Linked DNA regions of Homo sapiens. The main gene of each other region encodes a partner of the protein of the gene in region 3 in a complex. Each region holds a gene or a part of one and is shown on either strand. Other genes may lie near its edges.

Region 1 (3,648 bases), on a different chromosome or scaffold from region 3:
CAAAAAAGGTATTGGATTCCATGTCTTCTGATGGCTTTTCCTTTAGTTGTTGCTTGAATTGTTCCCTCTTCACAGCACGAATATTGGCTTTCAGAGTAGGCATGCGGTGTGTCAGCTCAATCTCCTTGCCTGTTGCATCTACAGTGCGCCCTTGCTCATCCAGGATCAGTGGTGTAGGTTTCGTTTGGTCTTTTAACTCCACCTTCCTGAAAAATAGCCCGCAAAGAAATAAATCCTGTATGGAACATTAAGGCAAGCAAAAAACAAAATAAAGCCAGGCGTGGTGGCTCAAGCCTGGAACCACAGCATTTTGGGAGGCCAAGGCAGAGGGATCACTTGAGCCCAGGAGTTAAAGACCAGTCTGGCCAACACAAGGAGACTGCATCTCAACAAAAAATTTAAAATTAGCTGGGTGCGGTGGCATATACCTGTGGTCCCACCTACTCAGGAGGTTGAGGAGGATCACTTGAGCCCAGGAAGTTGAGGCTGCAGTGCCTTCTCTATAAGAGTTATTTGGATGGACGGGTGTGGTGGCTCACACTGTAATCCCAGCACTTTGGGAGGCTGAGGCGGGTGGATGGCTTGAGCCCAGGAGTTCAAGACCAGCCTTGGCAACACAGTGAAACCCCATCTCTACAAAAAATACAAAATTTAGACGGGCACTTGTAGTCCCAGCTACTGAACCTGGGAGGCAGAGGTTGCAGGGAGCCGAGATCACTGCACTCCAGCCTGGGTGACAGAGTGAGACTCCCTCTCAACAACAACAACAACAAAAAGGACAATAAAATAATTCTAGGGAACAATCTCATCAGTGAGCAATACCATCTTTTTTTTTGAGACATGGTCTCACTCTGCTGCCCAGGCTAAAGTACAGTGGCACAATCACAGCTCATTGCAACCTCAACCTCCCAGGCCCAAAGAAATTCTCCCACCTCAGCCTCCTAAGTAGCTGGAACTACACGCATGCTCTACCATGCCTGGCTAATTTTTGTATATTTTAGAGAGATGGGGTTTTGCCATGTTGCCTAGGCTGGTCTTGAACTCCTGAGCTCAAGCAATCTGCCAGTCTCGGCCTCCCAAAGTGCTGGGATTACAGGTGTGAGCCACCGCGCCCTGCCAATAGTATCTTGATTAAAAATATCAAAGTGGATATTTCAGTATACAGGACAACCAAATGAAATGAGTTTATAAATTATATGAATTTATAATCCTATCTTTCCTTATCCCTGAATTCTTATGTCACTCATGGGATGCCAGACCAACTGTAGATGCTAAAAAAAATGTAACATCTTTGACCAGTTGCAGAGGAACCTCAGATCTAGTCTCACACAATGTGGTTTAATGGATAAATCTGAGTTTGAAACCAGGAAGGAAACCTGGCTATACTCCTAGCTCCAACATTAGATGAATAACCTTAATCTCAGTTATATAAATCATAAGAAGATAATAAACCCTCCAACAGGGAAGACGAGAAAAAATTCAACTGGTTAATCAATCACACCTAAGAAATATGAAACTGTGAGAAATGATCTAGGTTCTGTGGAAAAAGAGGATCAGTAATATTTTGTTTGTTGTTTTCTTTGAGCCGGAGTCTCCCTCTGTCACCCACGCAGTGGCACGATCTCAGCTCACTGCAACCTCTGCCTCCTGTGTTCAAGCGATTCTCCTGCCTCAGCCTCCCGAGTAGCTGGGATTACAGGCATGCACCACCACGCCTGGCTAATTTTTGTATTTTTAGTAGAGATGGGTTTTCACCATATTGGCCAGGCTGGTCTCGAACTCCTGACTCCTGACCTCAGGTGATCCACCTACCTCAGCCTCCCAAAGTGCTACGATTACAGGCCTGAGGCACTGCGCCCAGCCAGATCAGTAACATTCAAAGGTATTTATTGCTTCTCAAACTTCAGAAATGAAAAGGTATTCCATGAAATAGACACTCACGGGGGAGCAATGCCCATGGCATGGAGATTAGCCAGGCCCACCATGTTGGCATTGCCGATGAGTCCTGGCTTCAGTGCCAGCTGGGCTTGGATTCGAGCTTGCAGTTCAGCTGCTTTCCTTGCCTTCTCAATGGCATCATTCATGAAAGTGGCAGCCTGGGAGGGCTGAATAGTGTTGCCAATAGGAAGTCGTTCTGGTTGGGAGGAAGAAGGAGTCTTTGGCTGTGAGATAGAGAAAAAGAAATCAGAGGAATTAAGACAGGCAGACAAACACACATACATACACACAGATATACACACACATCATGGTAGACTGTAGCAGATGATTATGAAGTGAAACATGTAGTCACCTCTTCTAGTCTCTCATTTTGAGTGGATGGCAAGAAATTCTGTGCCAAAGATTATTCTGTTCAGAGTAATCTAGACACAATACCTGAGGTGTAGGGGGGCTAATGAAGCTCAGCTGTTTTTTCCTCTCCTCGATTTGTCGTGTTGCTGCCTCCATCATCTGTTTGATCTGCTCTCCAGGAAAAAAATTGAAAAACTGTTAATTTCTCCTTCTTACTTCTCCCATTCAGGTTTTTAAACCCACAAGGCTCTCAGGTCTAGACACTTAAAATGTTTTGAATGACTATACCACATTCTGCCTGCACCACAGTGCAAAAAATTTAGTCAAGATAAGTGAGCACTGGAATTTTTCAACCCATGTTCCTAAAGCAAGATTAGCATATTAGGTAGTAATATAGTGTGATGATTGAGACTCTGGAGTCAGAGAAACCTGAGTTTGAATCTTAACTCTGCCACTTAATGCCTTTGTTATCTTGGATAAGGAACTTAGTCTCTAAACCTCCTAAGTGTCTAGAAGGGGGAAGAAAACAGTACCTACCTTACAGGTCTAGTGTTAACCACTTAAATAATGCATGCAAACCTAACAGAACCTACACAAAATATTATACTTAATTTTCTTTTTTTTTTTTGAGATGGAGTCTCGCTCTGTCACTCAGGCTGGAGTGCAGTGGTGCGATCTTGGCTCACTGCAAGCTCTGCCTCCCGGGTTCATGCCATTCTCCTGCCTCAGCATCCCGAGTAGCTGGGACTATAGGCGCCCACCACCACGCCCGGCTAATTTTTTGTATTTTTAGTAGAGATGGGGTTTCACCCTGTTAGCCAGGATGGTCTCGATCTCCTGACCTCGTGATCCGCCCACCTCGGCCTCTCAAAGTGCTGGGATTACAGGTGTGAGCCACCGCACCCAGCCTATACTTAATTTTTTTTAAAAAATCATGATATTAGTACTTGAACTACTAGTTTGGGAAACAAGAGACGATGGTGCAAAGACCTGCTCCCTAGTCTCTATAAACCCCTTCTGTCCTAAAGAAGTTCAGAATGATAAGCTTTGAGGGTATGGCCAAACAACTCCTCTTACATTTTGCAAAACAGACCTGTTCTTAAACTGCTTCAAGATATTTTTAAACATTTGTCTTTAACATTTTTTCTTGAATAGGTGATATATTCAAAATTCAAAAATTACGGAAGGGTCAGGCATGGTGGCTCACGCCTGTAATCCCAGCACTTTGAGAGGCTGAGGTGGGCGAATCACTTGAGGTCAGGAGCTGAAGACCAGCCTGGCTAACATGGTGAAACACCGTCTCTAGTAAAAATACAAAAATTAGCCGGGTGTGGTGGTGGGCGCCTGTAATGCCAGCTA
Region 2 (3,648 bases), on a different chromosome or scaffold from region 3:
TTCCAGGCCCGGGCCCCCAACTGCTGCCCCTGCCTGTGTTGAGGGGGCGGGTTTGTGAGGTTCAGGGCAGGCCACATCCTGGACCCCACATGCCCCATCTCTAACCATCAATCAAGTGCCGCTGTGGCGGAGAGGATTCAGGCGACTGCAGATATCCATCCCTGTCCCCCACCCCACACACAAGGAGAACATCCCAGGCGAGGACATTGTAAATGCAAAATCTATACGATGGCAAGTAACTCTGAAGACTCAAGAAAAAGAGTTCCTCACGGACGGGACCTTTTATTCCAATCACCTCTCAAAATAGGTCTCCGAACGAGGACCCTGAAGAGAAGGCTATGCAGGGGGACGGGCCGCTGCCTGGCTCAGGGCTTCCCTCTGGTTTCTTCACGGTCCACAGATGCTACCCGGAGCCTTTCTCGAAAGCGCTGACTCAGTGTCTCAGGTGCGCGCCCGAGGAGTGGCAAACCCGGCCTGGCTCAGAAAGGGGGCAGGAGCCTCGTGAGAATCTTCCATGAGCATCTTCCGAGGGGATTCCTGTCCTGTCTTCTCTGTGTGAACGCCAGTGTGGACAGATGAGGATAGATGATGGAGTCCAGGCCACCCAGGAGGGGGTGATGGGGACCATGCGTGGCCCCTGCCTGGGACTTCCCTCCCCACACACCCCTTGGCATTAACGTCTCCACAGAGGGGAGAGGGTTATAGGACAACCTGGTGTGGGGGGCGCCGGGGACTCTCAAGAGCCCCCACTGTCCAGATGCTGGTCTTGCCTTTTGTAAAAGGACATCAGTGCCTCACTGTGCCGCTGACACCTGGTGAGAACTCTCAAAAGGAAGCTTCCCTTACGGGAACGGGGATTTCCTGAGAGTCCAGCGATGGACAGAGGGCAGGAGACCCGCTAGGTGCACCCAGAAGCTCAAAAGGAACAGTGGATGTGCAGTGTGTAGTTTTATTTGTTTTTATTTCCATAACACAAGAGAGGAAGCGAAGGGCCAGGGCCCGAGGCATCCCCTGCACGGTTCGAAGGCTTTCAACCGTCCCGGGTTTGTTTTGAAGGCAATTTTGGGGCCGCGCCCAAGGAAACCCTGCAGGCTGTCAGTCCCAGCATGAACAGCTTAAAATAAAAATCTCCCGTCTGGTTGCTGCTCGGAGAGGCTCCAAGAAATGCAAAACAAACCCGCCTGGAAAATGCTGCCCTGAGAACCAGAGCGAGGGCTTGAAAGATGCCTTCAACACAGACTCTTCTAGGAATCCAGCCAGTTTTGGGACGGCCGTTTCACAAAACCAAAAAACACCAAGTAACATTTCTAACCGGAGAATTGCCGGTTTTAGCAAGAAAAAGGGGCTTCACCTAAAAGGGAGGGTCACAAAACACGAAGGGGGTTCCCCCTGGCGCCTGCCTCTTCCTTTCTGAGCAGATCCGTCCGAGACTGTGGAGCGGAATCGCCACCCTGGCAGGAGGGGGCGCAGCAGCCGGTCTGGGTGGGCGCTCACTGTTTGCCCGCCTGTCTGCCAGGCTTCTTCTCTGGCTGGCCTCTGCCTGTGCCCGGGATCCCACCTCGGCCCCGGCCACCAAACACACCTAGAGGACAGAGAGAGGGCGCTGCAGCAGAGCCAGGTGGGTGGGACCTTCGACAGGATCCCGGCGCCCTGAAACTCTAGGCCAGGTCACCTAAGTCTCCAGCCTCAGCTTCCTCATGTGTGAGGTGGTGACTGAGGGTGCTTGGATCTCCTCCGTGGGGCAGAGCATCTGAGGAAGGCAGGAACTCCAGGGCATCCTCATTATGGGACTAGACCCAGCCCCCAGGGATGCGGGGGGGGGGGACTAGGCGACAGAGGACACTAAGTCACATTGGGGGTTGGGGCAGGCTTCCTAAAGGACAAAGCCAGAAGGGTTTCCTGGAGGAGGAGGAGGAGGTAGGAGAGGCGTGGAGCAGAGACCAGGGCAGTAGGCCAGGCTGGGGGCTCCCTGGCGGGGGGGGGGCCTCCTATGCGCCACAACCACCCACAGCCCCTCATCTACCTGCCAGGAGGAAAACAGAAAGAGGGATTTCTGTGTATCCAGCCCCAGGGATGGGGAAGGGGAGGGGACTCCCCAGCAGGCCTGAGGCCAGAGATAGACCATGAGGACAAATGACATTTTCCATGAAGCCCCTGAGGTGGGAGCATGTGGCCACTGGGGAGGTGACAGGGGGTTCCCGGGAGATGAGGGCCCCAGGGACTGAGTGGACGCTACAGCGGCACCTCCAGTAATCCTGAGCAGGCTGCACGCAGGGCACGCCTGTCCCCACACCCTCTGTGTGCCTGGCGCCCCTTCACGCCACCCTCACCACAGGCCAGGCCTGGACGCAGCAGGTTGGTCAGGCCGGGACCCAACATTGATCCCTCCCTCTCTGTCTCCCTTGGGGACCCCAGCTCTGTAAGCCCCGTTTAGGGAGCCGTTTCAGAGAACTTTCTAGCTGGACGAACGCTTGAGGAAATCAAAGCTGGAGCTTCAAACAGCAGGAGAGCCAAGGCCAGCAAGAGGAGCTGGCCCTGTGGCCCATGTGCTGGGTGCCAGGGGCCAGAGGCCAGCGCTGCAGGCAGCATAGCTCAGGCCCTCCACAGAGCCCGCTGGGAGGCTCAGTCGTGGGCCAGGGAGGTCTGGGGACAGGAGGACTGACCCCAACAGGAACTGGAATCACGGTCTACTCTGCAGACCTCAACCCCGTGAAGGTGGGGTCAGGGGTCCAGATTCAGAGGATCTAAGAGGTCAGGGCTCTCACCAGCCAGGGGCCACCAGGCCCTGTGGGGACAGAGGCCAGAGGCCAACGCTGGCCTGGGCCACCAACCTCCCCTCTCACCAGGCAGGACCAGCTGTGCTAGGGTGCACAGCCTGGTGGGGGTTACTGCGAGGCTGCTATCTGCACTCCATGGCCCAGTGGCTTCCTGCAGAGCAGCCAGAGAAAACCCCCCACTTCCCTAGGTAGGACCCGACCCACTCTCTCAACAACCTTGACCCCAACTACTGGGAAGGAGCCAGGCCGGGGACCCCAGAGGCCCCACCCACCCTGAGATCCCCAAAGCTCCCTGCCTGGAGTACTATCCCTGCCCCTCCCTCGGGCTCACTCCTGACCACCTCGTGAGCCTGCACAGAATTGGCGCCTGGGGCCTTCCGGGGGCAGCCATGCCGTGCTGCAAGCCCCCAGGCTGGCACCTGAGCCCAGCACACAGGCAGTGCCCATGGATGGCAGAAGCAAAGCCCAGGTCCCCCCGAGAACACAGAGCTGGGGACAGAGAGGTGAGGAAGGGCAGGGGCTACAGATGGCCCCTGGGCCTAACAAATGGAATTTTATGCCAATTCATCATCTCCGGTGGGGGCGGGCGACCTTGGCTCTGGATAGAGCCACGCCAGGTTCCAAGTGGAGTTGCCAGCGGCCTGGACAGATGGGCACCACCATACCCTCTCAGAGGGGAAACTGAGGCTTGGGGAGGTGACTTGATGTGCCCTGAGGACCGCCAGGAGGCGCAGTGAGAGGAGGGCTGAGTCCCAGGTCTCGGGGCTCCTCTGCCTGGGCCTCGGCTCATGGCCAAGGACCAGGAGGGGGGCCCGGGAGGGTTGGGAGGCTCCGAGGCAGCGCTGCAAGGGCAACCCCAAGAAGGAGGGAT
Region 3 (3,648 bases):
TGGAAAATATCTGTTAATCTGTATTCTGCTATTGTTAGGTTGAGTGTTTTACAAACATTAGGTCCAGTCAGTTGGTTACATTGCTTAAGTCTTCTATATCCTTAGTGATATTTTTTGTATACTTCTATCGATTACTGAGGAGTATTAGAAATCTCTAGTAATCCCAGCAGTTTGGGAGGCTGAGGCTGGTGGATTGCTTGAGCACAGGAGTTCGAGACCAGCCTGGGCAACATAGCGAAACCCCATTTCTACAAAAAAAATACAAAAATTAGCTGGGTGTGGTGGTACACGCCTGTAGTCCCAGGTGCTTGGGAGGCTGAGGCGGGAGAGTCTCCTGAGCCTGGGAGGTGGAGGCTGCAATGAGTGGAGATGGTGCCATTGCACTCTAGCCTGGGCAACAGAGCAAGACCCTGTCTTGCTTGAGAGAAAGATCCAACTACAGCTGTGAGTTTATTGTCTTTCAGGTCCATCATTTTTGAAATTCTGTTATTAGTTACATAATGTATTTAGGATTATTAGGTCTTCTGAACGAGTTGACTACTTTATCGTATCAAATATCCCTCTGTATTCCTGATAACATTCCATGGTCTGAAGTCTTTGTCTTAATCAGTAGTGCCACTCCAGCTTTGTTTTGTGTTTGCATGGGTGTATTTTTCCATCTTTTTACTGTTAATCTGTGTCTTTGTAACTAAAGTTTATTTCCTATAGACAGCATATAGTTGGCTCTTTTTTTTTTTTTTTTTTTTTTTTTTTTTGAGATGGAGTCTCTTCCTTGGTTGCCCAGGCTGGAGTGCAGTGGCATGATCTTGGCTCAGTGCAACCTCTGCCTCCCGAGTTCAAGCGATTCTTCTACCTCAGCCTCCCAAGAAACTGAGACTACAGGCGCGTGCCACCACGCTCAGCTAATTTTTGTATTTTTAGTAGAGACGGGGGGTCTCACCATGCTGTCCAGGCTGGTTTCGAACTCCTGACCCCGAGGCCCGCCTCAGCCTCCCAGAGTGCTGGGATTACAGGTGTGAGCCACCATGCCCGGCCTTTTTATTTAAATCCAATTTGACAATGTTTGCCTTACAAATGGTCTAAATACCTCAATTAAGGTTAATGTAACTATCAATGTGGCAATGTAGCTCAGTTTAAATCTACCGTCTTACTCTTTTTTTTTTAAATTATTTTTTCTGCTTTTCTCTTGTCCTGCCTTCTTCTGAATTTAGTTGTTTTGTGACTTTATCTCCACTTTTCACTTATTTGGCTACATGGTTTTTTTCTTATTGTTTGCTCTAAGGTTTACAGTATATACATAGCTCACTTACTGTGATCTACTTTGACCATTAGTCTACTACGGATCACTTCACATATAGTACAAGAACCTTAGAATAATACACTTTAAGTTCCACTCCCACTCTTAGTAGTATTTTTGTCATAACATTTTAATTGTACATGTATTATAAGTGCTATAATACTTTGTTACTCTTTTTGCTTTGAACAGCCTTTATCTTTTGTAGAAATTGCAAAATGAGAAAAAATATTTTTTTGCATTTTACCCACATACTTACCATTTCTGGTGTTCTTCACTAGTTTGTATAGCTCCATCTGGTGTGCTTTTTTTTTTCTTTTTCTTTTCTTTTTTTTTTTTTTGAGACACAGTCTTGCTCTGTCTCCCAGGCTGGAGTGCAGTGGTGCGATCTCAGCTCACTGCAACCTCTGCCTCCTGGGTTCAATTTCTGTATTTTTAGTAGAGACGGTTTCATGTTGGCCAGGCTGGTCTTGAACTCCTGACCTCAGGTGATCCACCCACCTCGGCCTCCCAAAGTGCTGGCATGACAGGCGTGAGCCACCACACCTGGCCCAGGGGAACCATTTTTTTTTTTTTTTCCCCTGAGATGGAGTCTCGCTGTGTTGCCCAGGCTGGAATGCAGTGGCACAATCTCAGCTCACTGCAACCTCCACCTCCCAGGTTCAAGCGATTCTCTTGCCTCAGCCTTCTGAGTAGCTGGGATTACAGGCGTCTGCCACCACACCCGGCTAATTCTTGTATTTTTAGTAGAAACAGGGTTTTGCCATGTTGGCCAGGCTGGTCTCCAACTCCCGGGCTCAAGCAGTCCTCCCACCTTGGCCTCCCAAAGTGCTGGGATTATAGGCATGAGCCATCGCGCCCAGCCTCATTGTGTTTTGCTTTCTATTTCCCTAGTGACTAATGATGTTGAACTCAAATCTTTCTTTAGTAGTAGGGATAAAACTAACTGCATCAAGTAGTCTCCACCCTCCCCGCCCCTGGCTCATCTGTAATTTACTTTTTTTTCTACTACCTTTAGATTGTGAATAAGTGGAATACAGCTCTCATTGGCCTTATGACATACTTTCGGGAGGCTGTGGTGAACACCCAAGAGCTCTTGGACTTACTGGTGAAGTGTGAGAACAAAATCCAGACACGTATCAAGATTGGACTCAACTCCAAGATGCCAAGTCGGTTCCCCCCGGTTGTGTTCTACACCCCTAAGGAGTTGGGTGGACTCGGCATGCTCTCAATGGGCCATGTGCTCATCCCCCAATCCGACCTCAGGTACAGCCTGGTTCAACGTATTTCTAAACCCTATTGCTCAGGCCCTAAGGGAAGTGGGTATTTCTTTAGTTTTAGGCTTTATTTTTTCTGTAATCTTGGTTGTACACCCAAACAGGTGGTCCAAACAGACAGATGTAGGTATCACACACTTTCGTTCAGGAATGAGCCATGAAGAAGACCAGCTCATTCCCAACTTGTACCGCTACATACAGCCATGGGAGAGCGAGTTCATTGATTCTCAGCGGGTCTGGGCTGAGTACGCACTCAAGAGGCAAGAGGCCATTGCTCAGAACAGGTGGGCACCTAGGAGGGCATGCCAACCCTGGGGCAGGGGCAGTGGTGGCCTTTGAACCGTGTGGAGTTCAGGGTCAGAGCATGCCATGGTTGTATGGAGGTGAGAAGGCTGGTTCTACTGACCCTAATTATTTTTGGCCAGGAAGGAGTGCTGAGCTCCTCATATGAGATCACGTTTTGACTTGAATCTTTCTTTTTTTGGAAGACGCCTGACTTTAGAAGACCTAGAAGATTCATGGGATCGTGGCATTCCTCGAATCAATACCCTCTTCCAGAAGGACCGGCACACACTGGCTTATGATAAGGGCTGGCGTGTCAGAACTGACTTTAAGCAGTATCAGGTATGTAGAGGGAGCAGATTTTCCCTGAGTCAGGAAAATCCATGGCTATCCCCGAAACTTGGGGCAATAGGCACCCAGAAGCTTGACCGTGCCTGCCTTGCCATCTAGGTTTTGAAGCAGAATCCGTTCTGGTGGACACACCAGCGGCATGATGGGAAGCTCTGGAACCTGAACAACTACCGTACAGACATGATCCAGGCCCTGGGCGGTGTGGAAGGCATTCTGGAACACACACTCTTTAAGGGCACTTACTTCCCTACCTGGGAGGGGCTTTTCTGGTGAGGATTCTCCTCTCTTAGAGGGACCTGTCACAACCCTTTGAGCTCATCTCTTGTATGCCTCTGTGATTTCCTGTGGTGTTTCCCAGACAGCCACCTCCAGGAGGTTAGCAGTGTGCTGGGAAATGGCAGGATATCACCTCACCTGCTTCTCTTGCTCCCCAGGGAGAAGGCC

What was found.
Region 1: PRPF8 (region 3) and PRPF3 share a complex: the UniProt entries of both Homo sapiens proteins name them as parts of the U4/U6-U5 tri-snRNP complex.
Region 2: PRPF8 (region 3) and LSM4 share a complex: the UniProt entries of both Homo sapiens proteins name them as parts of the U4/U6-U5 tri-snRNP complex.

Annotation. Positions count from the first base shown.
Region 1 is NC_000001.11:150,331,493-150,335,140, reverse strand, and holds part of PRPF3 (U4/U6 small nuclear ribonucleoprotein Prp3), read right to left. Parts: intron 2,458-3,648; coding exon 2,374-2,457; intron 2,163-2,373; coding exon 1,942-2,162; intron 207-1,941; coding exon 1-206. UniProt on the Homo sapiens protein: Plays a role in pre-mRNA splicing as component of the U4/U6-U5 tri-snRNP complex that is involved in spliceosome assembly, and as component of the precatalytic spliceosome (spliceosome B complex).
Region 2 is NC_000019.10:18,305,974-18,309,621, forward strand, and holds the end of LSM4 (U6 snRNA-associated Sm-like protein LSm4), read right to left. Parts: intron 1,583-3,648; coding exon 1,491-1,582; 3' UTR 263-1,490; downstream 1-262. UniProt on the Homo sapiens protein: Plays a role in pre-mRNA splicing as component of the U4/U6-U5 tri-snRNP complex that is involved in spliceosome assembly, and as component of the precatalytic spliceosome (spliceosome B complex).
Region 3 is NC_000017.11:1,660,818-1,664,465, reverse strand, and holds part of PRPF8 (pre-mRNA-processing-splicing factor 8), read left to right. Parts: intron 1-2,312; coding exon 2,313-2,560; intron 2,561-2,675; coding exon 2,676-2,855; intron 2,856-3,059; coding exon 3,060-3,195; intron 3,196-3,303; coding exon 3,304-3,473; intron 3,474-3,638; coding exon 3,639-3,648. UniProt on the Homo sapiens protein: Plays a role in pre-mRNA splicing as core component of precatalytic, catalytic and postcatalytic spliceosomal complexes, both of the predominant U2-type spliceosome and the minor U12-type spliceosome.